Linked DNA regions of Homo sapiens: regions 2, 3 and 4 are each linked to region 1. Evidence: fine-mapped expression QTL. A gene starts in region 1. Each other region holds a variant in brackets. All regions are shown on one strand. Distances are from middle to middle. Region 1 holds the start of PPHLN1 (periphilin 1). Region 2 has its middle 170 kb from the start of GXYLT1. Region 3 overlaps PRICKLE1 (prickle planar cell polarity protein 1). Region 4 overlaps PPHLN1 (periphilin 1).

The links. PIP is the estimated chance that this variant, and not a neighbour inherited with it, causes the effect.
Region 2: its variant is the best candidate, but not a certain one, in a credible set for the expression of PPHLN1 in whole blood (TOPMed, PIP 0.68).
Region 3: its variant is the best candidate, but not a certain one, in a credible set for the expression of PPHLN1 in whole blood (GTEx, PIP 0.68).
Region 4: its variant is the best candidate, but not a certain one, in a credible set for the expression of PPHLN1 in whole blood (TOPMed, PIP 0.87).

Annotation. Positions count from the first base shown.
Region 1 is chr12:42,323,286-42,328,285 of GRCh38, forward strand. It overlaps PPHLN1 (periphilin 1), which reads left to right and starts at 2,882. Exons shown (of 10, transcript NM_201439.2): 1 at 2,882-2,944. ZCRB1 (zinc finger CCHC-type and RNA binding motif containing 1) reads right to left here and starts at 2,809. Exons shown (of 8, transcript NM_033114.4): 1 at 2,639-2,809; 2 at 734-819. The coding sequence starts at 817. MIR7851 (microRNA 7851) reads right to left here and starts at 574; the gene lies at 415-574. RefSeq lists an enhancer at 2,505-2,554.
Region 2 is chr12:41,973,890-41,981,722 of GRCh38, forward strand. No RefSeq gene overlaps it. Among named protein-coding and RNA genes, the nearest start is that of GXYLT1, 170 kb to the right of the region's middle. The variant G/A (reference allele first, on the strand shown) is at 4,107.
Region 3 is chr12:42,456,898-42,464,730 of GRCh38, forward strand. It overlaps PRICKLE1 (prickle planar cell polarity protein 1), which reads right to left. Exons shown (of 8, transcript NM_153026.3): 7 at 7,498-7,833; 8 at 1-3,768. The coding sequence ends at 2,912. Among named protein-coding and RNA genes, the nearest start is that of PRICKLE1, 130 kb to the right of the region's middle. The variant A/G (reference allele first, on the strand shown) is at 3,506.
Region 4 is chr12:42,425,798-42,430,797 of GRCh38, forward strand. The region is part of intron 9 of PPHLN1 (periphilin 1); the gene reads left to right. Among named protein-coding and RNA genes, the nearest start is that of PPHLN1, 100 kb to the left of the region's middle. The variant A/T (reference allele first, on the strand shown) is at 2,994.

The sequences.
Region 1 (5,000 bases):
TGTTTCATGCAGAGTGAAAGCCAGAGTCCTTACCATGATGTAAATAGGTCGTATAAGGCACCTCGAGTGGGCTTACCTAAGATTACCCCTCTTTTTCTGAAATGTTTGTCCTCTAGAATTTGCACAGGTGCCTCTTACTCGTTTCAGGTCTTTATTCAAAAGTCACCTTCTCAATAATGGCATTTCTGACCGCCCTATGTAAAATTTCACTTCCATTCCCAACTTAACGTTCAATAGCCCACCTTTCCTGCGTTATTTTTTCTCCTTAGCACCTAACATCTTAGCATCTCCTTAGTATCTAACACATAATTTGACTTAAATGTTCAATAAATATAGCTTCTATTTTTTTTTCTTTTTTTTTTTTGAGACAGGGTCTCATTCTGTCACCCAGGCTGGAGTGCAGTGGTGTGACCTTGGCTCACTGTCGCCTCGACCTCCTAGGCTCAAGCAATCTTCCAACCTCAGTCTCCCAGGTAGCTTGTAGAGGCATGGTGGCACACACCTGTATTCCCAGCTACTTGGGAGGATGAGGTGGGAGGATCACCTGAGGGGGCGGGGAGGCTGCAGTGAGCCATGATAGTGCCACTGCACTACAGCCTCGTGCCTCAGTGACAGAATTAGACTGTCTCAAAAAAAGAAAAAAAAAAAAAGGAAAAAAGAATTTGCCAGGGAGAACTATTTGCTTAAGGTTATCTGTATCTCAAATAGCAGTCACTCGATAAGATTTACTTACCCGGTACAAGTCATTGTTTGTCAGGGAAAAAGGCAAGTTGGATACATACACTGTGCTCTTACTTGGAGCCAATCCACCACTCATTTCTAAAAGTGAAAACAAACTTATCAGCAATCAGTCTAAACCAGGATTCTTTTTTTGTTGTTTGAGACGGAGTTTCCCTCTTGTTGCCCAGGCTGGGGTGCAATGGCGTGATCTCGGCTCACTGCAACCTCTGCTTCCCAGGTTCAAGCAATTATCCTGCCTCAGCCTCCCGAGTAGCTGGGATTATAGGCATCCACTACCATGCCTGGCTAATTTTGTATTTTTAGTAGAGACAGTGTTTCACCATGTTGGTCAGGCTGGTCTTGAACTCCTGACCTCAAATGATCCACCTGCCTCAGCCTCCCAAAGTGCTGGGATTACAGGCATGAATCACCACACCTGGCCTAAACCAAGTATTATTAATTCCAAATAAAACCAATACATCAGACCAGTCTGGGTATTATTTGGAAAAAAACAAAAAACAAAAACCAATAAAGTATTAACAATCACCGATTTAATTATGCCAGATGTGTACACCTTCCTTACATTTTAGGAAGTTAGGAACAATGACTCCAGCAGGCTGAATTAAGGAATTCCTTTTTCCCAGTCACCACTTAAAAAAAATTCTTTTTTGGTTCTTCTTCTTTCAAGTATTCTTTATACCAACACTTTCAGTGCCAGATTGTATGGGTAGGGAGACGGGTTTTGAACAGATGAAGGAAAAACCCTGAGGCTACTCCTAACTTCCACTCAGACCATGAGCAAAAAAAATGCTCTATTGAATATGTACTGTATATGTACATTACCTGCACCTTGCTCACCCAGGTCAGAAAGAGCATGGGGACTCAGACAGAACCTTAGCCACTGATTTTTGCTAATACACAGTCATGCTATGCTTAATGAAGGAGGTATGTTCTGAGTGTTACGTGATTTCACAGTGCAGACATCACAGGGTGTACTGAGACAAACCTAGATGGTCTAGCCTATTGCTCCTAGGCTACAACCTGTACAGCATGTTAATGTAGTGAATAATGTAGACAGTTGAAACACAATGGTAAATATTTACATAGCTAAACACAGAAAACGTACACTAAAAATATGGTACAATGTATTACACTCTTAGGAGACCACTGTGGTATATGTGGTTTGTTGTTAATCAAAAAGTTGTTATGCTGTGCATGCCTGTACTATGGCTGGGTACCTTTTTTGCTTGTCTTAATATTTTTTTTCTCTGGAGTGGTGTGTTAAGAGGAAAATTTTCTTTTCCCCTTTTAGTATGATGTTAAGGAGTAAATTTAAGCTTTATGTATCGACAATATAAACTTCTTTCGAAACGCTAATTTTGCTTATTGCCAAATTATGAAATGATACATTATATAAATAGGCTTGGTGCCTCGAAGAGACAGACCTGTAGGTATGTGTGTATATGTATATAAAGTTTACAAATGTAATCAGTAATTTTCACATCTTATCTTACAAAGTCAGCAAATTACCGTGAAAATATCAGGCTCAACCAAATTCAAATTTCTGATTTAAAAAGAGCGTGCGGTGTGTATTTGAGATGGGAAGATCAACCATCACAAATGGAAAAATACTGACTCTATGGCATGCCAATTCGTGAAGGAATGAGAAAACTGCCTCATGTTTGGTGTTATGGGGGAATTATTTAGAAAACTTCAGGAACTCAACATAGATACGTCGCTTTTTAAGTTTCTCATTTGAAACTATGCGTTACACGTTCTGCTGAGAGCCGCGAAGGCAGGCAGAGGTTAAGGTCCTGGAATAAAAAGGGTGGCGGGAGAGAGGGGCAGAGCGTTTTGGCAGCCGAGTCTGGGGAGGGGGCCCCGCAGGAGAGAAGGCCGCAGCTGAGGAGGCGTTTACCTTCAGGTGGGTTGGGCCTGGGAGACCAGAAGAGTGCGAGCCCTCGGCTCAGCTGGGGCTCAACCCCGACTCTTCGTAGCCGCTCGCAGCGGCCTTGGCATCACGAGTCCTGGGAGGGGTCAGGCGCGGAGAGCAGATAATAGCAGCCACGGTGCTTCTTCCCGACTGTTTGAGATCCGGGCCCCGAAGGCGGGCCCAGAGGCGAGCGCTTCGCTAACGTCATTGCGCGCGCCGGAAGTACCTACCTGGGATAACGGCGGCGAGCGGACGGCTGCATTTACGGGGTCTCCCGGAGGGCCAGAGTCGGTGAGCGCTTTTTACCTTTCCCAGAGATGGATGCAGAGCGTGTGCGGGCTGCTAAACGGGGGGGAGTGGGCGGGAGTTTTCTGTGTCGGGTCCTGGATTCTCCTGCCTTTGAATTGTGTGACAATTCTGCCCATGCGGTTGAGGGTGGAGAGACGCAGTGGAGTTTGGAATAAAGGGAAGTATTGAGTCTAAGATAGGGGTTCGCCTCTCTGTAGCGCCTTAATATGCAAGAAGACGACTGAGCTAGGTAACTTCAGTGACCCGAGAGGAGTCAGGAAGTCGGTAATTTTACTGAAGGTGTTCACGGTACCCAGCTATTAGGCACTTTGGGAACTACAAAATAAACAGACCTTTTATGTTTTGTTTTGTTTTGTTTTCTGGTGAAGATCTCAGTCTAGTTGGGGAGACGAGGTCAACTTGGGGAGAGTTGGATTCACAGAATGACTCATCTTTAGTATGGGTATGGACAAGTGTTGATCTTCTTGGCACCTTTTCTCTTCCTGTAAATCTATAATGGCTACGCACTGCTTTTTCTCTAAGAGGCCATAACATGCCCACCATTCCTACAGAAAAATCAGAACGTAATGCAAGGTAATTTATACTTCTGCCTACCAGCACATACAGACCAGGCCTCTAACCACTCCCTGGGAGCCTGCGTTCCAGCAGCCTGGAACCCACAGCCTCTCCTGGAGCCTGCACAATCAATCCAGAGTGAAGCCGATGTCTTCTATAGAGACGGAAGTACAATCCATCCAGGGCGCAGCTGAATTTTGAGAGGCCTGAATGCCTCCGTGGCCGACAGGAGACCGCTGGCACTAATTCTCTAGGCATACTTGTGGCCAGCCAAACTTACCATGCTTTACATCTCTGTTATCCTTGGTTACCGCCCAAGATGTAAGCTTCTGTGGTCTTCTGTGCTATAGTCTCATTTCCATGCTGCTTTGTGCTTTCTTTCGACTTAGGCTATCACTGCTTCTTCGTTTCTTCCCCATTTAACCCCTCAACACCCCATCTGTGCTTTCTGAAACCTCTATTTCCTGCTTAAACTATTTTACATATTCAACTTCTTTAGTGAAATTCTCCTTCATCTCCTAACCTTAACTATTGATAACACGTAGATTTTCCTGCCAGCCATTTCAGTTGAGCCCTTTCTCTGACCCTGCATTTAAAGGTTGGGCATGGCTGTAGCCATGTTGAACGGATTTCAATTCCTCAGAATACTTTCTTCCCTCAGTATCTTCACAAAGGCTCTTTTCTCTCTCTGGGACATTTGAGCTCCCTGTTTCCTCCTATCTTTTTCTGGATAACTTCTATTAAAGATCTGAGTTTAGCTGTCACTTTACTTGAGGGGTATACCCTAACTTCCATAGAGTTAGGTATTTTTGCTATGTACTCTTAGCTGTCCTGCACTTCCCTCACGGCATTTATCACATGTATCTTAATTGCTTCTTTGCCATCCCTACTAAGCGAGACTGTCGGTGAGGGACTGTGTTTGTCTCGTTTATCTTTGTAACTCCAGTAGCTAATACAGTTCTTGGCACATAAGACAGTCAGTTATTTCTTGAATGATTGCAGGTGCTGAAGGTATGCTGCAGAGATCAGGCAGTTAACGTTAATGAATACTTCACCCTTAGAAGGGGTCACCTGCCACTCAGCTACAGCTGATTGTGGCTATGTGAGAATATGATCCCAGTTTTGCCAGAACATCTAATTTTTTCAAAAAAAGTTGGAAATACCATTTTTTAAAAAGCATCCTCTCCCAGTTTTTAAATGTTGTCAGTGGAATAGAATTTTATTAAAAAAAAAAAAGTGGGTCAAACACAAGTCTCATATGGCCTATCAGTCACTAGTTTGGAATCTGTTTTAAGTCTTGTAGGGTTTATATAATGGGCTTTGTGGAGAATAATAGGTTTTGAGTTGGGCCTTGATGGACCGTTGGATGTTGAATGAGAGAATGGAAAAAGATATCCCGTTTGGAAAATAAACAGCTCCGTGGTAGTATGTGTTAGTCTGTTTGTGGCACAGTAAGGAAACAGGCATAATTATATGCTTTTGG
Region 2 (7,833 bases), 350 kb before region 1:
TTGATTTGCATTTCTCTGATGGCAAGTGATGGTGAGCATTTTTTCATGTGTTTTTTGTCTGCATAAATGTCTTCTTTTGAGAAGTGTCTGTTCATATCCTTTGCCTACTTTTTGATGGGGTTGTTTGTTTTTTTCTTGTAAATTTGTTTGAGTTCATTGTAGATTCTGGATATTAGCCCTTTGTCAGATGAGTAAGTTGCAAAAATTTTCTCCCATGTTGTAGGTTGCCTGTTCACTCTGATGGTAGTTTCTTTTGCTGTGCAGAAGCTCTTTAGTTTAATTAGATCCCATTTGTCTATTTTGGCTTTTGTTGCCATTGCTTTTGGTGTTTTAGACATGAAGTCCTTGCCCATGCCTATGTCCTGAATGGTATTGCCTAGGTTTTCTTCTAGGGTTTTTATGGTTTTAGGTCTAACATTTAAGTCTTTAATCCATTTTGAATTAATTTTCGTATAAGGTGTAAGGAAGGGATCCAGTTTCAGCTTTCTACATATGGTGAGCCAGTTTTCCCAGCACCATTTATTAAATAGGGAATCCTTTCCCCATTGCTTGTTTTTCTCAGGTTTGTCAAAGATCAGATAGTTGTAGATATGCGGCGTTATTTCTGAGGGCTCTGTTCTGTTCCATTGATCTATATCTCTGTTTTGGTACCAGTACCATGCTGTTTTGGTTACTGTAGCCTTGTAGCATAGTTTGAAGTCAGGTAGCGTGATGCCTCCAGCTTTGTTCTTTTGGCTTAGGATTGACTTGGCGAAGTGGGCTCTTTTTTGGTTCCATATGAACTTTAAAGTAGTTTTTTCCAATTCTGTGAAGAAAGTCATTGGTAGCTTGATGGGGATGGCATTGAATCTATAAATTACCCTGGGCAGTATGGCCATTTTCATGATATTGATTCTTCCTACCCATGAGCATGGAATGTTCTTCCATTTGTTTGTATCCTTTTTTATTTCATTGAGCAGTGGTTTGTAGTTCTCCTTGAAGAGGTCCTTCACGTCCCTTGTAAGTTGGATTCCTAGGTATTTTGTTCTCTTGGAAGCAATTGTGAATGGGAGTTCACTCATGATTTGGCCCTCTGTTTGTCTGTTATTGGTGTATAAGAATGCTTGTGATTTTTGTACATTGATTTTGTATCCTGAGACTTTGCTGAAGTTGCTTATCAGCTTAAGGAGATTTTGGGCTGAGACAACGGGGTTTTCTAGATATATAATCATGTCATCTACAAACAGGGACAATTTGACTTCCTCTTTTCCTAATTGAATACCCTTTATTTCCTTCTCCTGCCTGATTGCCCTGGCCAGAACTTCCAACACTATGTTGAATAGGAGTGGTGAGAGAGGGCATCCCTGTCTTGTGCCAGTTTTCAAAGGGAATGCTTCCAGTTTTTGCCCATTCAGTATGATATTGGCTGTGGGTTTGTCATAGATAGCCCTTATTATTTTGAGATATGACCCATCAATACCTAATTTATTGAGACTTTTTAGCATGAAGAGTTGTTGAATTTTGTCAAAGGCCTTTTCTGCATCTATTGAGATAATCATGTGGTTTTTGTCTTTGGTTCTGTTTATATGCTGGATTACATTTATTGATTTGTGTATATTGAACCAGCCTTGCATCCCAGGGATGAAGCCCACTTGAACATGGTAGATAAGCTTTTTGATGTGCTGCTGGATTCGGTTTGCCAGTATTTTATTGAGGATTTTTGCATCTATGTTCATCAAGGATATTGGTCTAAAATTCTCTTTTTTGGTTGTGTCTCTGCCCAGCTTTAGTATCAGGATGATGCTGGCCTCATAAAATGAGTTAGAGAGGACTCCCTCTTTTTCTATTGATTGGAATAGTTTCAGAAGGAATGGTACCGGTTCCTCCTTGTACCTCTGGTAGAATTTGACTGTGAATCCATCTGGTCCTGGACTCTTTTTGGTTAGTAAGCTATTGATTGTTGCCACAATTTCAGAGCCTGTTATTGGTGTATTCTGAGATTCAACTTCTTCCTGGTTTAGTCTTGGGAGGGTGTATGTGTCGAAGAATTTATCCATTTCTTCCAGATTTTCTAGTTTATTTGCGTAGAGGTGTTTGTAATATTCTCTGATGGTAGTTTGTATTTCTGTGGGATTGGTGGTGATATCCCCTTTATCATTTTTTTATTGTGTCTATTTGATTCTTCTCTCTTTTTTCTTTATTAGTCTTGCTAGCGGTCTATCAATTTTGTTGATCCTTTCAAAAAACCAGCTCCTGGATTCATTAATTTTTTGAAGGGTTTTTTGTGTCTCTATTTCCTTCAGTTCTGCTCTGATTTTAGTTATTTTTTGCCTTCTGCTAGCTTTTGAATGTGTTTGCTCTTGCTTTTCTAGTTCTTTTAATTGTGATGTTAGGGTATCAATTTTGGATCTTTCCTGCTTTCTCTTGTGGGCATTTAGTGGTATAAATTTCCCTCTACATATTGCTTTGAATGTGTCCCAGAGATTCTGGTATGTTGTGTCTTTGTTCTCATTGGTTTCAAAGAACATCTTTATTTCTGCCTTCATTTCAATATGTACCCAGTAGTCATTTAGGAGCAGGTTGTTCAGTTTCCATGTAGTTGAGCAGTTTTGAGTGAGTTTCTTAATCCTGAGTTCTAGTTTGATTGCACTGTGGTCTGAGAGATAGTTTGTTATAATTTCTGTTCTTTTACATTTGCTAAGGAGAGCTTTACTTCCAACTATGTGGTCAATTTTGGAATAGGTGTGGTGTGGTGCTGAACAAAATGTATATTCTGTTGATTTGGGGTGGAGAGTTCTGTAGATGTCTATTAGGTCCACTTGGTGCAGAGCTGAGTTCAATTCTTGGGTATCCTTGTTAACTTTCAGTCTCGTTGATCTGTCTAATGTTGACAGTGGGGTGTTGAAGTCTCCCATTATTATTGTGTGGAAGTCTAAGTCTCTTTGTAGGTCACTCAGGACTTGCTTTATGAATCTGGGTGCTCCTGTATTGGGTGCATATATATTTAGGATAGTTAGCTCTTCTTGTTGAATTGATCCCTTTACCATTATGTAATGGCCTTCTTTGTCTCTTTTGATCTTTGTTGGTTTAAAGTCTGTTTTATCAGAGACTAGGATTGCAACCCCTGCCTTTTTTTGTTTTCCATTTGCTTGGTAGATCTTCCTCCATCCTTTTATTTTGAGCCTATGTGTGTCTCTGCACGTGAGATGGGTTTCCTGAATACAGCACACTGATGAGTCTTGACTCTTTATCCAATTTGCCAGTCTGTGTCTTTTAATTGGAGCATTTAGTCCATTTACATTTAAAGTTAATATTGTTATGTGTGAATTTGATCCAGTCATTATGATGTTACCTGTTTCTTTTGCTCGTTAGTTGATGCAGTTTCTTCCTAGTCTCGATGGTCTTTACATTTTGGCATTATTTTGCAGCAGCTGGTACCGGTTGTTCCTTTCCATGTTTAGTGCTTCCTTCAGGAGCTCTTTTAGGGCAGGCCTGGTGGTGACAAAATCTCTCAGCATTTGCCTGTCTGTAAAGTATTTTATTTCTCCTTCAGTTATGAAGCTTAGTTTGGCTGGATATGAAATTCTGGGTTGAAAATTCTTTTCTTTAAGAATGTTGAATATTGGCCCCCACTCTCTTCTGGCTTGTAGAGTTTCTGCCGAGAGATCCACTGTTAGTCTGATGGGCTTCCCTTTGTGGGTAACCCGACCTTTCTCTCTGGCTGCCCTTAACATTTTTTCCTTCATTTCAACTTTGGTGAATCTGACAATTATGTGTCTTGGAGTTGCTCTTCTCGAGGAGTATCTTTGTGGCGTTCTCTGTATTTCCTGAATCTGAATGTTGGCCTGCCTTGCTAGATTGGGGAAGTTCTCCTGGATAACATCCTGCAGAGTGTTTTCCAACTTGGTTGGAAAACTTGGTCTCCCCGTCACTTTCAGGTACATCAATCAGACGTAGATTTGGTCTTTTCACATAGTCCCATATTTCTTGGAGGCTTTGTTTGTTTCTTTTTATTCTTTTTTCTCTAAACTTCCCTTCTCACTTCATTTCATTCATTTGATCTTCCATCACTGATACCCTTTCTTCCAGTTGATCGCATCGGCTCCTGAGGCTTCTGCATTCTTCAC[G/A]TAGTTCTCAAGCCTTGGCTTTCAGCTCCATCAGCTCCTTTAAGCACTTCTCTGTATTGGTTATTCTAGTTACACATTCGTCTAAATTTTTTTTCAAAGTTTTCAACTTCTTTGCCTTTGGTTTGAATTTCCGCCCATAGCTCGGAGTAGTTTGATCATCTGAAGCCTTCTTCTCTCAACTCGTCAAAGTCATTCTCCATCCAGCTTTGCTCCATTGCTGGTGAGGAACTGCGTTCCTTTGGAGGAGGAGAGGTGCTCTGCTTTTTAGAGTTTCCAGTTTTTCTGCTCTGTTTTTTTTTTCCCATCTTTATGTTTTTAGCTACCTTTGGTCTTTTATGATGGTGACATACAGATGGGTTTTTGGTGTGGATGCCCTTTCTGTTTGTTAGTTTTCCTTCTACCAGACAGGACCCTCAGCTGCAGGTCTGTTGGAGTTTGCTAGAAGTCCACTCCAGACCCTGTTTGCCTGGGTACCAGCAGCGGTGGCTGCAGAACAGTGGATTTTCATGAACCGCGAATGCTGCTGTCTGATCGTTCCTCTGGAAGTTTTGTCTCAGAGGAGTACCCGGCCGTGTGAGGTGTCAGTCTGCCCCTACTGGGGGTGCCTCCCAGTTAGGCTGCTCGGGGTTCAGGGGTCAAGGACCCACTTGAGGAGGCAGTCTGCCCGTTCTCAGATCTCCAGCTGCATACTGGGAGAAACACTGCTCTCTTCAAAGCTGTCAGACAGGGACATTTAAGTCTGCAGAGGTTACTGCTGTCTTTTTGTTTGTCTGTGCCCTGCCCCCAGAGGTGGAGCCTAAAGAGGCAGGCAGGCCTTCTTGAGCTGTGGTGGGCTCCACCAAGTTCGAGCTTCCCGGCTGCTTTGTTTACCTAAGCGAGCCTCGGCAATGGCGGGTGCCCCTTCCCCAGCCTCACTGCCGCCTTGCAGTTTGATCTCAGACTGCTGTGCTAGCAATCAGCGAGACTCCGTGGGCGTAGGACCCTCCAAGCCAGGTGCGGGATATAATCTCCTGGTGCGCTGTTTTTTAAGCCCATCCGAAAAGCGCAGTATTGGGGTGGGAGTGACCCGATTTTCCAGGTGCTGTCTGTCACCCCTTTCTTTGACTAGGAAAGGGAACTCCCTGACCCCTTGCACTTCCCGAGTGAGGCAATGCCTCACCCTGCTTCGGCTCGCACACGGTGCGCTGCACCCACTGTCCTGTGCCCACTGTCTGGCACTCCCTAGTGAGATGAACCTTGTACCTCAGATGGAAATGCAGAAATCACCCATCTTCTGCGTCGCTCACGCTGGGAGCTGTAGACCGGAGCTATTCCTATTTGGCCATCTTGGCTGCCCTCCCCCCATGTTCTGAAGTTTTACACAATTCTGTGAAAAGGATCTACTGGGGATCCTCAATATCTCTGAGCACCAATAAGCCAACAAGTCCGCTTGATCCTATCAGTGGTTCAACAGGAAGTCAGAGAATCAGTGCTCCAGTCTTCCCTGATGCTCACTGGGCTGCAGCACCTCCACCCAGGAGATGCAGCCTCATCCAAGATCCATACACCAGCAGCATCAGCATCATCTGAGAGAGAGTTAAAAATGCAAGAAAATCAGCCTCTGTCCCCAAACTTTCAGAATCACAATCCACATTTTAGTGAAAGAAGCCAGAATATGAAAGGTCAAGTACTGTATGGCTTTATTTATCTGAAGCATCAAGACCAGGCAAATCCATGGCAACAGAAAGCAGACGGGTGGTGGTCAGGAGCTGAGGGCAAGGGAGGAATGAGGAGTGACTGCTTGATGGATGCAGAGATTCCTTGAAGGAAAAAATGTCTTGGAACTAAATAGAGGTGATGGTTGCACAACACTGTAAATATATTAAATGCCACTGAGTTGTGCACTTTAAAATGGTTAATGATTAATTTTATGTTATGTGAATTTTACCTCCATAAAAAAATACCAAAAAAATCTATACCTTAAGATCCGCAGGTGATTCATACGCACATTGAAGTTTGAGAAGCAATCTCCCTACTAGATAAAGTATCAGGGATTTTCAGTCTGGCTTACAGAAACACTGATTTTCACTATAAAGTAGCAAAACTCCACTCATTGATACTAAAGCATCTAGTATTACAACATTAATGATAATCTAAAATATTGTGGAGACATTGTCTTAAATTTTTGGCATAGAAAATGTTAAAATTGCCTCACTTTTTACACTCTTTTTTCCCAAATTTTTCTACATATTCAATAGGGAAATTGCTAATGACAATAAGCCATCAATTGTGCTTCATTCATTAAATTTGAGTTTGTGCAATTTGTTCGTTGTTCTGAAAACTGTTCCCTAGCACCACCTATTTCTTCCTATTGCTTATTCAACTATAACATTCTTTGAATTTTTTTAGCTTTCACAGATTAACTCTCCAGAAGACATGTTACCCTGCTTGATATTCAGTATATATTTTCTGGTGACAGCTTTATGGTACAATTAAATTTCATACATTTTTTTCAGCCTTCCCTGAATATGCATTAGAAAGCCAACCATCATAATTCTAAGCCAATTGGCTTGATTTGCTTATTTAAGCCCACATCTAACAGGCCTGCTATATTTCCATACATTCCATCCCCATCTGCACTCCATCCACCTGCCCAAAGTTATTGATCATGCTGACAGTGAAGGAAACCACAGGGCCTTGACAGTCAAAATATAATTTCCATTAGAAAGCCCTTTAAAAAGTACTCAGGACTTTAAGATGCCAAACGGTATAGTGATGTCAGTTTAAACCAGGTCACAGAAGAAGCTGAAAATTGATTATCAACAGCAGACTGGACCTGCGCATTTCAAAAGTGTTATCAGCATTTAGAATAAGAAATTGTTAACACAACTTGGCATATGAGAAAAAAAACCCTGATGTTTAGATGGACTGAGTAACTTAATAAGGCTCATTTGGATGCAAAAATAAATGAGCATCAAGTTAACATTAACTTTTAATGCTTGCCATTTTATGTTAATTCATATTTTTAAATTATGGCTGATACTTTGCAATCAGTCTATGGCTAATTATATCTCCCACATGTAAATCTGATGGAGTGCTGGGACCAAAGAACAACAAAAAATATCCAACAAAGACTTTATAGATTCAGAACTGTCGCGTGCCTCTGTTAACTGGGAAAATCCAGCCTGCACAGAAAACCTCAAGCTCTGAACTTCAGTCACCATTGTTTTCCAAAGATCAAAGCTTAGCTTGCTTAACCATGAAAACCATATTGATGTATCCTGTTTGCAGATGTTTTTCCTGATGTTTTTCCTTGTAACTGATAGCTCTATCCTAAGACACAAGATTTAGGTGCTGAGTAGATGCAGACTGGACTTGTAGGAAATCTCCAAGCTAAAAATCATCTAAATAAAAAGGAATCAGGAGTCAAATACATTCTTTCACCTAAGAGTCTACATGCTTTTCAACTCCAGACACAAGGATTCTTCCAGTAACAAAAAGGATATCCAGATCCAGTTCTTTTCGTGAGGATGTATTCTAATGTACAGTCTTATCAGAAGCTTAGATTTTAGGAAAACAAAAAATAACAACTACCATTTAAAGAGAGTCTACCCTGAGCCAGCCACTTTGTAAATGCTGTTTTTCTTATTCTTCACAATAACCCCTCATGAGAAAACTGAAAGTCATCTGATCAAAGTTACAAAGCTAGTAAATGATCAAAGGAGAGTTTTCTAATTTAGGAGTTAAG
Region 3 (7,833 bases), 140 kb after region 1:
ACGCAGTGGCTCATGCCTGTAATCCCCTGCACTTTGGGAGGCTGAGGCAGGTGGATCACCTGAAGGTCAGGAGTTCGAGACCAGCCTGGCCAACTTGGTGAAACACTGTCTCTACTAAAAATATAAAAAATTAGCCGAGCATGGTGGCAGGCACCTGTAATCTCAGCTACTCCGGAGGCTGAGACAGGAGAATTGCTTGAACCCGGGAGGCAGAGGTTGCAGTGAACTGAGATTGTGCCGTTGCGCTCCAGCCTGGGCAACAGGAGCGAAACTCCATCTCAAAAAAAAAAAAAAAAGGAAAAGAAAGTCACATTATTATTGTGAATAAATATCTGCATTTCCTTAAGCCTTTGGCAGGCTATGTTACCCCTATCTTTTGAGAATGTACTTGAAAAGTGAGGGCAGTACCTTCACCTTATACCTGCATTTCTTCAGGCTAAGTATCACCTGTTTACTATTTATTATCCATCCTTTATAAGCAACATATTGCAACAGTCTTTTCTAAAAGGATGCCCACTTGTGGCAGCACAGGTTCTGAAAATTTCTTCAAAATCAAGAAATCTGCTAATACATTGAGAGGTTGTGATGGAACAAACACTCTCATTTACATTACATTAATGTAAATCAGGAGAATTTCTTTTGGAGGAAAATTGGCAATATCCATCAGTCTTAAATACGTAACCTTTGTCCCAGTAACTACGCTGCTCCCGATTTATGTGCACATGTGCCAGTGTAGCATAATGTATGAGGAAAGTCAACTCCATCATTAGGAGTAGGCTATTAAGCAGTCACTGAAAGAATGGGTAGACCTATATGCACTAACGTGAAATGTCCACATACAAAGGGAAAAAAGCATGTCACAGCACATATAGGTCACTACCACTTTTAAAAGACACATTTATACGAATGTGCTTTGAATGTCTGAAGGAGACACTAAAACTGGGTAAGAGTGGTTACTTCTGGGGAGAGGACCTGGGGGACTGGGATGAAGAATGGAAAGGAGATGCTGTCTCTGACTTTTGCCCTATTTGAATTTTTTTGTCATGTGTATGCACTTCCTTTTCATTGCTGATGGTTTTTTAAAGGCACCAGACCAGGGAATGTAAGTTACTGAGTGAAGAACTCTCTCACCATTGGTGCTTTTCTGAAGGGAATCTGTGTAGCCCAGATACAAACCCTTGTGTGGGACGGCTGTCCACCTACTACTCGCTGGTTTACCCATTGGACTTGTGTCTGTCCTCCCTAAGGCCAAATTTTCCCCACTCCAGTCTATATGGAAAAAATAAGCCTCTGTGTCTGAAGCCCTATTTCTGGCCTACAAGTGGGGCGTGTGGACACACGAGACAAATGGAGGTCTGTTAATGGTAGGGCAACTGCAAAATAAATCATGCCTGAACACAGGCACAAAATGGAAGTTATCTGGATACATTTGCAAAGATTTATATTCAGAAAGGTAGTTTTGTTATTTATTAAGTGTTTATTAAATGCCTCCCTAAAGGTCCTGGATGCCACTAGAACCTTTAGTTAGGACTGAGATGTATATGCAAGAGTGGCACATATCAAAATATCTGCTCATTGGTTCAGATCCAACGTAAGTTTTCCTTGAACCAGAACCTCATATTAACTTACAGTACTCAATGGCACAGCATCCTCTAATTTAAAGATTTTAAAACAAAAACATAACCAGAAGACCCAGTTTTCAAAATTGCTGTTAAAGGCCAACAAATTAGTGGGAGGGAAGGAATAAAAAGGAATAACCTCTCTTAAAATAACAAATCTACAAAGTCCTCTGCCACAAAAGCAGATCTTTGTCATTTCCCATGAGATAATCATCACCTTGCTGAAAATGAGAAAGGCACCCCCCGCAGGCAGGGGGAAAAAACCCACTCGCTGAAACAGCTTCTACTTGTTTTTACCATATATTCCAGGGGTTATGTGTGTGGAGGGGTTGTTTTTACATTTATACAGTTTACATTGCTTGACCCATAAGTAACACTTGTAAGATTAATAGGGCCATAGTTTTAAAGAGTACTTACATAGCCCCACCATGCATACAGAGCCTTTTTTAATATTGGAAAAAAAAATCAAAAAAAGTTGAATTTTCCATCACTAGGCAATGTAAATTTGACCATCTACATTTATAAACCCTGACTAAAATATAAGCAATCAGTTCATCCATAAATTCTGGTTCCCTGGCAAATCTAGCACTGCAGCGTAACAAACGGCTTACAATTCAGGGATATAAAAATATCAGCTTTAAAATCTGAACTGTACAGTATATACATTAATATTTGCACCGTTAAATTAGGAATACACTTAAGTCTATGAAATACTAAGTTATAAATAGCAATGTTTTTTGTTTTTTTTTTTCAATCTGTAGCTGGCGCTGATACAATACAATGTTTACCTGGCCAAAGAGGGTTCGAGGGGACAAGCTGGCCTCACAATAAGATGCACAGTGTTAGCTAGGTCATCGTGACAGGCATGCCTCACACCAAGACGGACTATCAAGACCTGAGCCGACCTGACTTACATAAATGACAAACACTAGTGCTTTACAAAGGTGGCTGGAGTTCTCCATCTTCTAAAATCAACATCCAATCCCCTTCAGTCAGCATCTTCAGTATTCCCTTGAGGACTGGAAAACCAAAGCAGCTACGTCCATCTGTAACGCACCCGCACCGGACAGGCACGAGATGTCACGTCCACCTGGCACCATCCAAAGAGGGTAAATTGGAGAAATCACACCTTTCAAATGTTAATCTGACACTGTAAACAGCAGTTGAGTTCTCATTTACATGGGCAAAGAAAGCACTTTAAACTATTTTCACAACTTTCCTACGGAAGAAAAGGAAACGATTCAGACGGTTAATGGCTAAGTTTTAAACAAATGCTCTGCATCACTACTTGGTTAAGAAATAATACAATTTTTGCCCTTGTGTCCCTTTTTCTTCTTGGATTTTGTTGTCCTCTGACCAAACTGAGGGGTGGGAAGTGCAGATGGTGGACTAGAAAGGTCATCTGTATAGTAGGCAAATCTCTGTGGCCGGGGTTGAGGGATTGGTTGTCCAAGAAAATATCCTTCTTCTTCCGAGTCGGAAGAGGAGGAGGAGGAAGAACACCAGGAATCATCATCCTCGCCGTAGAGTCCCAGAAACCGATTCATTCCTGGGTTCTGCAGGCCATAATCGGAAGTGGCATGGGCGTACTGTCCGTAGAGATCAGCATTCTGGATGTATGCTTGGATCTCCCGGGCACTTTTATTCTGTATAAATTTCTCATAGTTATCGGGGGTGTACAGCCGCAGTCTGTCCTTGGGAGAGTATTTTCTTTCTGTAACAAGATTCAGGGCATTGTCGGAGCGGGACTTTCTACTTCTCCGGCGGCGGTGGTGATGAGACCTGGATCCCCTCTCTTCAAAATTGTAGACGCGTCTCCGAGTCCTTTCACTCATCGGAGGCTGCCGGATTTCAATGTCATAGTTCCCATTGTCAATGACATCATC[A/G]GAAAACTTGACCTGCTGGGGTCTGGATTGAGACTTGGACCTTCTGAGCACTGGCAGATGTACTGGCTTCTCTTCAGGCAGGATTTTCTCTGGACACAACTCTGAACTTAGACTCTTTAAGGACTCTGCACTCCTGTGCAGCATGGAAGAGTTCAAAGTTCCCATATTGCTCATCTTCTCACAATCTTCTGTTTCCATCTCCTCAAAATTTTGCAGAGAATACAATGATGGCCTTGGCTTGTTTTCTCCATCCACCGAAGCCCCTAGAAGAGAGGCCAAAACAAGATGTGCTTCTCAATCATCCTAATATTCGACAGTACTTAAAAGTAAGCTACTGAAAGGAAATATTTCAAAGAAAATTTCCAATCTCAATATTTGATTAAAACCCATAGGGAAAGCCAACATGTATCTATGCCAATTGAGAAGTGGTATAAATGCAGTTATTGTTATAAGGGGTGGGCACAGCCTTTTTTGTTTTGTTTTTTTGTTTTGTTTTGAGACAGAGTTTTGCTCTAGTTGCCCGGGCTGGAGTGCAATGGCGCTATCTCGGCACACCACAATCTCCACCTCCCAGGTTCAAGCAGTTTTCCTGCCTCAACCTCCTGAGTAGCTGGGATTACAGGCATGTGCCACCACACCTGGCTACTTTTGTATTTTTAGTAAAGACGGGGTTTCTCCATGTTGGTCAGGCTGGTCTCGAACTCCCGACCTCAGGTGATCCACCCACCTCGGCCTCCCACAGTGCTGGGTTTACAGGTATGAGCCACTGCACCTGGCCTGGGGCACAGGTTCTCTTATAAGCCTGGAGTCAAAGATTAGTTAAGTAGTTACGGCACATGGCATGAGCAGCAAAACTTTAAGAGCTCTTCACAGCAGCCTGTTCATTCATTAACATAAGATGTAGAAGCTTCTGCTCCTCAATTCATTAAAGCCACACTGCTTCATTTGGAGATCTTTCACATCAGTCCCTCCTTGGTCTCCATCATGAGCTAGTCTTCCTCATCTTATACTGAGGCTAGTGGTCAGCAAACTACAGCTCAACAGCTTGTTTGTGTATCAAGTTTTATTGGAACAGCCACACCTATTTGTTTACATATTGTTTATAGCTGCTTTCTACAGTGGCAGAGCTAAGTAGTCACACCAGAGACCGTAGGCCTAAAAAGGGCTATCGAGCCCATTATAGAAAAGGTTTGCTCAACCCCTGACCTAGATCTTCATCCAGTCTTTTCTGCCTTCAACGTGTAAAATATGCCACTTCCAGATTAATCTTCTATTGAAACATTTAACAAAACAGATATTGATCTCTTTTGATATAATAGGACCCAGGCATGTTAAGATAAATACATATAGCCCTATAGACAAAGTGATACTGTTGTCAACTGGAGACTACATAACTTCGTACTTATTTTTTTTTGAGATGGAGTCTCGCTCTGTCGCCCAGGCTGGAGTGCAGTGGCACCATCTCAGCTCACTGCAAGCTCCGCCTCCTGGGTTCATGCCATTCTCTCACCTCAGCCTCCCGAGTAGCTGGGATTACAGGCATGCGCCACCACGCCTGGCTAATTTGTTGTATTTTTAGTAGAGACGGGGTTTCACTGTGTTAGCCAGGATGGTCTTGATCTCCTGACCTCGTGATCTGCCCGCCTCGGTCTCCCAAAGTGCTGGGATTACAGGTGTGAGCCACCGCGCCCGGCCCTATATAACTTCATACTTTTTAAAGGGGGCCTATTTTTCAGCTTATTATTGTCAAGGAATGTCAGCCCCTAACACTTAAATGTGTACCAAGTTATGTTTAATTCTTTTATTTATTTTTTTTGAGACAGAGTCTTGCTCTGTCACTCAGGCTGGAGTGCAGTGGTATGATCTCGGCTCACTGCAACCTCCGCCTCCCAGGTTCAAGTGATTCTCCTGCCTCAGCCTCCCGAGTAGCTGAAATTACAGGCACATGCCACCATGCCTGGCTAATTTTCGTATTTTTAGTAGAGACAGGGTTTTGCTATGTTGGCCAGGCTGGTCTCGAACTCCTGACTTCAGGTGATCCACCTGCTTTGGGCCTCCCAAAGTGCTGGGACTGCAGGTGTGAGCTACCACACCTGGCCAAATTATGTCTATTTCTGATATTAAATTTAAAACTCCTAGCACTGGGCCTGGCAGACAAAAGGTGCTTACTCAGTCTCACCCACCATTCTTCCTCAACTCCCCTTTATTGCCGGCCTTATCTTTGACAAGTCCACAGAAGCCGGGGGGGTAGCTTTGCCGTACCCTTCCTTGTCACTGCAGTGTCTGGCACAAGTTATTCCTGGCAGGAAGCAGCTACTAAGCCTTTCCTGTCTACATTACAGAAGCATTACCTTCATCAAAGGGCTGGATGTCAGTAGTTTGACTATAAAACTAGCCATGCAACAGCAACATTTCTATAATCCAAAGACTTGTTGCAAATAATTTGCATAATGTCCTAGGTTCTAGGCCTAATCTTGCCTTTAGAACCTATGTAATGTTTGGCATTTAGCCTTTTGGTAATTCAAGTTTCCTCATTTGTGAAATGCAATCATATCATCCACTCTATATAGCTCAGGGTCATTTTAAAGATAAAATGTGGATAACTGGTATGACTGTGCTTTGAAAACATTAAAGTAGGCCAGGGGCAGTGGCTCACACCTGTAATCCCAGCACTTTGGGAGGCCAAGGCAGGTGGATCACCTGAGGTCAGGAGTTTGAGACCAGCCTGTCTCACAAAAATTAGCTGGGCGTGGTGGCAGGCGCCTATAATCCCAGCTACTCATGAGGCTGAGGCAGGAGAATCGCTTAAACTCAGGAACCTGAGAGGCAGAGGTTATAGTGAGCTGATATCGCGTCATTGCACCCCAACCTGGGTGACAAGAGTGAAACTCCATCTCAAAACAAAACAAAAAACTAGGAAAAAAAAGAAAACATTACAGTAATATTTTAGAATCTAAATAAAAAGTATTCAGCTGTTTTTGAGCTACTGTCACAGGGAAATTCAGGAAGATGTTTAAAAAAAAAAATGAGCTTGTGGCCAGGCGTGGTGGCTCATGCCTATAATCCCAGCACTTTGGGAGGCTGAGGCGGGTGGATCACCTGAGGTCAGGAGTTCGAGACCAGCCTGGCCAATATGGCGAAACCCCATCTCTACTAAAAATACAAAAATTAGCCAGGTATGGTGGTATGCACCTGTAATCCCAGCTACTGGGGAGGCAGAGGCAGAAGAATCACTTGAACCCGGGAGATGGAGGTTGCAGTGAGGTGAGACTGCGCCATTGCACTCCATCCTGGGCGACAAGGGCGAAACTCCACCTCAAAAAAAAAAAGAGCTTGTAAAGTGTGTGGGCCAATTTTGGTATCTTAGAATACATACAGAATAATTCAAGCGTACAATATCTTTCAGACACAATCCAGTTGTACACTCCTTCCTCCAATCAATTTCCTTCTCTTCAAAACAGGGTAATAAAACCTATCCCTAAAGACTGCACTGTAAATATATTTTATGCACATGCACTCACCTCACACATGTGTTTGTTTTGCTAGTGTTTGGTATTTAAGTGAGGTTCCTTCCTTCCCTTGATCCATGGTTTTGAATAACACACAACTCCTACTCATGCTGAATTGCAATTTTTTTTTTTTTTGAGATGGAGTCTTGCTCTGTTGCCCAGGCTGGAGTGCAGTGGCGCAATCTTGGCTCACTACAACCTCTGCCTCCTGGGTTCAAGCAATTCTCTTGCCTCAGCCTCCCGAGTAGCTGGGATCACAGGCCCATGCCCAGCTAATTTTTGTATTTTTAGTAGAGCCGCGGTTTCGCCATGTTGCCTGGGCTGGTCTCGAACTCCTGACCTCAAATGATCTGCCCACCTCAGCCTCCCATAGTGCTGGAATTATAGGCATGAGCCACTGCGCCTGGCTTGAATTGCAATTTTTTGAATACACTTTTTAGTAGCTCCTTTTTTCAAATACCCCATAATCCCTAGATTACGTACCTGTGATATTGGACAATGCCAAAGAATCCATCGAATCCCGAACACTTTGCTCTGGTTTCAGGTCTGACAGACACTCCAGGGAATCTTCATACCACTGTGTTTCATCATGATTATACCCTGAAGCCCCATGGTCCAGTTCCAATTCCTGAAGCCTTCTACTGCTTGCAGGGCCTGGGTGGCTGCCATAAGCAGAATCGCCCAGTCCATCTTGTGACTGTGCCCAGTACATATCAGACTGGTATTTTTTACTTGCAAGGCTCTGGTTATTTTGCTTTAACTCGGTCTTACTTTTAACCATGTTATCAGATATCCAGTGCTCACTGGCTCGAATATCCA
Region 4 (5,000 bases), 100 kb after region 1:
CAGTTTGATGTGTCCTTCTAGGTCCTGTGTGTGTATACACGATACAGGATTTTAATATTGAAAGAAATGGGATAGTAGAGTGAATGTGCCTGGTCCACTGGATCATCTGTCAAAAGAAACTAAGGAAGAACTTGCCGCCTCTGCAGGATAATTTGAAAATGTCCCATTTCAACCATAAAATGCTCTTTAACCAACCAAAGCATAAGTAGCTTACAGAATAATAATGCTTTTCCCAGCATGGGGCAGATGGCTGATCTGACCTATTTATTTCTATCTTAGTGGCATCCCTGAAGCTATATGGAAAAATAATCCACGTTTCAAATTTCACTAGAGGAATGACTTGAATAACTTAAAGTACAGTATTAGACTTGACACCACACACACACACACACACACACACACACACACACACACACACACACACACACACACCCTCATGCATTGTCTCATGGCAGTTAGGAATCATAATCAGATGACCTGCCTTCCAGACCCCTCCAAACCAGTTTCTTTACACTACTCTTCAAAACCAAGCAAGTTCATTTATCTTTGCTAAGGATTTAGTTCAGTCAGGGCTTCATTTCTATTTTGGATTTTAATAATTATCTTGAGTTTGTAGCAGCAGTATGATAAGGAGTGAATTTGAAATCTAGGCTATGAATGTTTATTGTATTTCTTACAGTTAACTCCTTTAATCTCTCTGCTTCACTATTTTTATAAAAAAAGGCCAATAACTCCAGAGTGCTTTTGAGGATTCTGGTACATAAAATAATACAAAGGTCTATATGAAAATGTTAAGTTAGTAACTTAATACTTCTAATTTGCCAGGAATTTTTAAATGTCATTATATTTGAATAAGCAAATAAAAAGACCTTTAGAATTGTAACCCACAGCCATCCTTAGACATGGAGACCTTTGCTAGGATTCCTCCCCATTCTCCAAAAATTGTTCTTAGGTGGTGAGGCCTCCCTGAATTGAGAACTCAACTCATTGGACCCAGTAACAGTTAAAACTTCTATGTTCTGAGACATAACTTCTGTATCTTCAGAAGATAATGCGACCTATATATTGAATTGTCTCTGACCTCTTTGGTGGTAGATGAGCTGGGAAGGAAGTGGAGGGGGTGGGTCTTGAAATAGCTAAGCTGCTTCCCGCTTAGTCATTCCTGCTGACAAATTTCTCTCCTGTTGGAGAGTAACTGGGTGGATCTCGCGCCGTGCAGGTTTCTCAAACCAATGTAAGACTTTTTTTCACTTCGAGAACTGGCTGTTGCCAGTTAATTACTTTCTTTTAGCCTTAGTCAGATCTAAAATGTGACCTTTTGTACAGTCAGGACATTGCACTTTTCTGATAATATTAAATTATTTCATGAAGACTGGACTACCTCATCTGTGAAATTGTAAAAAGATTTATTTGAAGTTATTGTGTTTAAAATTTTTCTTTGGATAATTCTCAAATATTTCTTTTGTAAGAAATAGCTGTATATAAAAATTAATTCAGTGTTTACATAAGAATTTTGCCTTTTTAAGCAAAAAGAAAAGTCTGGAGGCATCACATTACCTGATTTCAAACTATACTGTAAGGCCATAGTCACCAAAAACATCATGGTACTGGCATAAAAACAAGCACATAGATCAATGGAACAGAATAGAGAACCCAGAAATTAACCCAAATACTTACAGCCAACTGATCTTCGACAAAGCAAACAAAAACATAAAGTGGGGAAAGGACACCCTATTCAACAAATGGTGCTGCCAATGTAGGAGAATGAAACTGGATCCTCATCTCCCACCTTATACAAAAATCAACTCAAGATGGATTAAGGACTTACTTACATCTACGACCTGAAACTATAAAAATTGTAGAAGACAACTTAGGAAAAACCCTTCTAGACATTGGCTTAGGCAAGGATTTCATGACCAAGAACCCAAAAGCAAATGCAATAAAGACAAAGATAAATAGCTGAGACTTAATTAAACTAAAGAGCTTTTACACAGCAAAAGGAACAGTCAGCAAAGTGAACAGACAACCCACAGAGTGGGAGAAGATCTTTACAATCTGTACATCTGACAAAGGACTAATACCCAGAATCTATAACGAACTCAATCAAATCAGCAAGAAAAAAAACAATCACATCAAAAAGTGGGCTAAGGACATGAATAGACAATTCTAAAAAGAAGACATACAAATGGCCAAAAAATATATGAAAAAATGCTCAACATCACTAATGATCAGAGAAATGCAAATCAAAACCACAATGCAGTACCACCTTACTCCTGCAAGAATGGCCGTAATCAAAAAAATCAAAAAACAGTAGATGTTTGGCATGGATGTGGTGAAGAGGGAACACTTCTACACTGCAGGTGGGAATGTAAACTAGTACAGCCATTATGGAAAACGGTGTGGAGATTCCTTAAAGAACTAAAAGTAGAACTACCATTTGATCCAGCAATCCCACTACTGGGTATCTACCCAGAGGAAAAGAAGTCATTATATGAAAAAGATACTTGTACACATATATTTATAGCAGCACAACTTGCAACTGTGAAATCATGGGACCAACCCAAATGTCCATCAGTCAACGAGTGGATAAAGAAACTGTGGTATGTATATATACAATAGATTACTACTTAGCCATAAAAAGGAACAAATTAGTGGCATTTGGAATGAGCGGGGTGAGATTGGAGACTGTTATTCTAAGTGAAGTCACTAACTCAGGAATGGAAATCCAAACATCGTATGTTCTCACTCATATGTGGGAGCTAAGCTATGTGGGGTGCAAAGGCATAAGAAAGACACAGTGGACTTTGGAGACTCAGGGGAAAAGAGTGGGAGGGGGGTGAGGGATAAAAAAGACCACATATTGGGTGCAGTGTATACTGCCTGCTCAGGTGATGAGTACACCAAAATCTCACAGATCACCACCATAGAACTTACTCATGTAACCAAACATCACCTGTTCCCCAATAACCAATGGAAAGTTTTAATACTTAATT[A/T]AAAAAAATGAAGTTTGCCTTTTTAACTTCTTTTTTTTTTTTTTTTTAACTTAAGGGACTTTCTAAGTGACAGATATCGTTTAGGGAGCTGAATTGCCATCTTAAACTGTGATCTGTTTCATTATGATGGATGTTTTGGACATGACTTGGGAAATGTGCAAATTAAGCCTACTCCTCCTTGCTTTTATTAAATAATTTTTATTATTCTCAGACACGACAATATCAAAAGCCAAATGAAATTTTATCATATTGCACAATATTTGTACCCATTTTCTCAGCATTTAGAACTTTAAAGCCTATTTTATTATGTATTTAATTGCCTTTCATCCTGTGTTCATTATGAATATTTTTCTTTAGATTTAGCCTTTTTATATGTTTTGCATCTTAGAAATTCTTTTCCCAAGCCAGTAATTGACATTGAATACAAAATTACTTTTCTCAAAATTCACTGAGCAATGAATACATTGGTTTTTTTCCTAATCAACAGTCTTTAGTTGTTTGTTTATTGCCTTTTGAATGAGAGAAAAAATGTCTACAGTGTTTCTACCATAAGTTATTTTAAGTCTAAGAATTTGGTCTTTGCCTTACCTGCTCATGTCTAGCTCCATTTTGATTGCAGTCTACTATCTTTCCCAAAACTTCCCTATATTCCAAGATTCATTACTGTTTAAACACTCTATGCTTTTTTGCTTCCAAGGTGCTTAGAACAGTTCACGCTGTCTTAGTGCTCCCTGCAACTCCCATGATCTTTTATTTGGAATAATTACAACACTTTATATTTATTTTATGGCATTTACCATATTCTGCCTTGTTGTTTGGTTATTTTTAATGTGTTGGTCTTTTTACTAGAATGTAAAGTCCTTGAACAGAGCTTGTTGTACTCTGACCAATTCCAGTGCTTTAACATAGAAGGTGAGCTCTAGCTGTGTGGCAGGCACATTTATCTGTCATTCACACTCATGTCAGCATTTGCAGATTCATTAATATCTAACCCATATCGAGAAGATGCAAAGCTCATCCTCCAGGGTCAAAGCAGAACAGATCCATCTTCATTTTATTTTGAAAATTTTTGTATACCCATCACCTGGATTCTATAATTAAGCTTTTGCTCTATTTGTTTTGTCACTTATCTTTCCATTTCTGGATGTAATAAGAAATATATATTTGGCTTCTGCCCCCATTTCTTGGCACACAGCTTGGAATCTTAAAGTGATGTGTCTTTTTGTATGTGAATGAGGTAACCAATGGCCGGGGGAGCTCCTGGATAGCCTCTGTTTAGGGGCTGATTGCCCAGGGAAACCAACCATGTGTTTAGAGAGTTGGAACTTTCAGCCTACCCCCTTGACCTCTAAAAGGGGTGGAGAGGGACTGAAGGTTGAGCCGCTCACCAAAGGCCAATGATCTAATCAACTGTGTTTTTGTGATGGGTCTTCGATTTTAGCTGCTCTTCTCTCTCTGTCTCTGACACAGACACACACCCCTACAGTCACACACACACACACACACCCTTACAGTTGATACTTGAACAACTCAGGGATTTGTGATGCTGTCCCCCCGCCACCCTTAACATTTGAAAATTCAAATGTAACTTTTGACTGTCCCAAAACTTGACTACAGATAGTCTGCTGTTGACCTATCAATAACATAGTCAGTTAACACATATTTTGTATGCTATACATATTACATATACTATATTCTTTTTTTGGTTTTGTTTTGTTTTGTTTTTTTGAGACGGAGTACCCAGGCTGGCGTGTAGAGTGCTATGGTGTGATCTTGGCTCACTGCAACCTCCGCCTTCCCGGTTCAAGCAATTCTGCCCCAGCCTCCCAAATAGCTGGGATTACAGGCACCCACCACCACGCCCAGCTAAATTTTGTATTTTTAGTCGAGACGGGGTTTCACCATGTTGGCCAGTCTGGTCTCAAACTCCTGACCTCAGGTGATCTACCCACCTCAGCCTCCCAAAGTGCTGGGATTATGAGCGTGAGCCACCGTGCCTGGCCAATA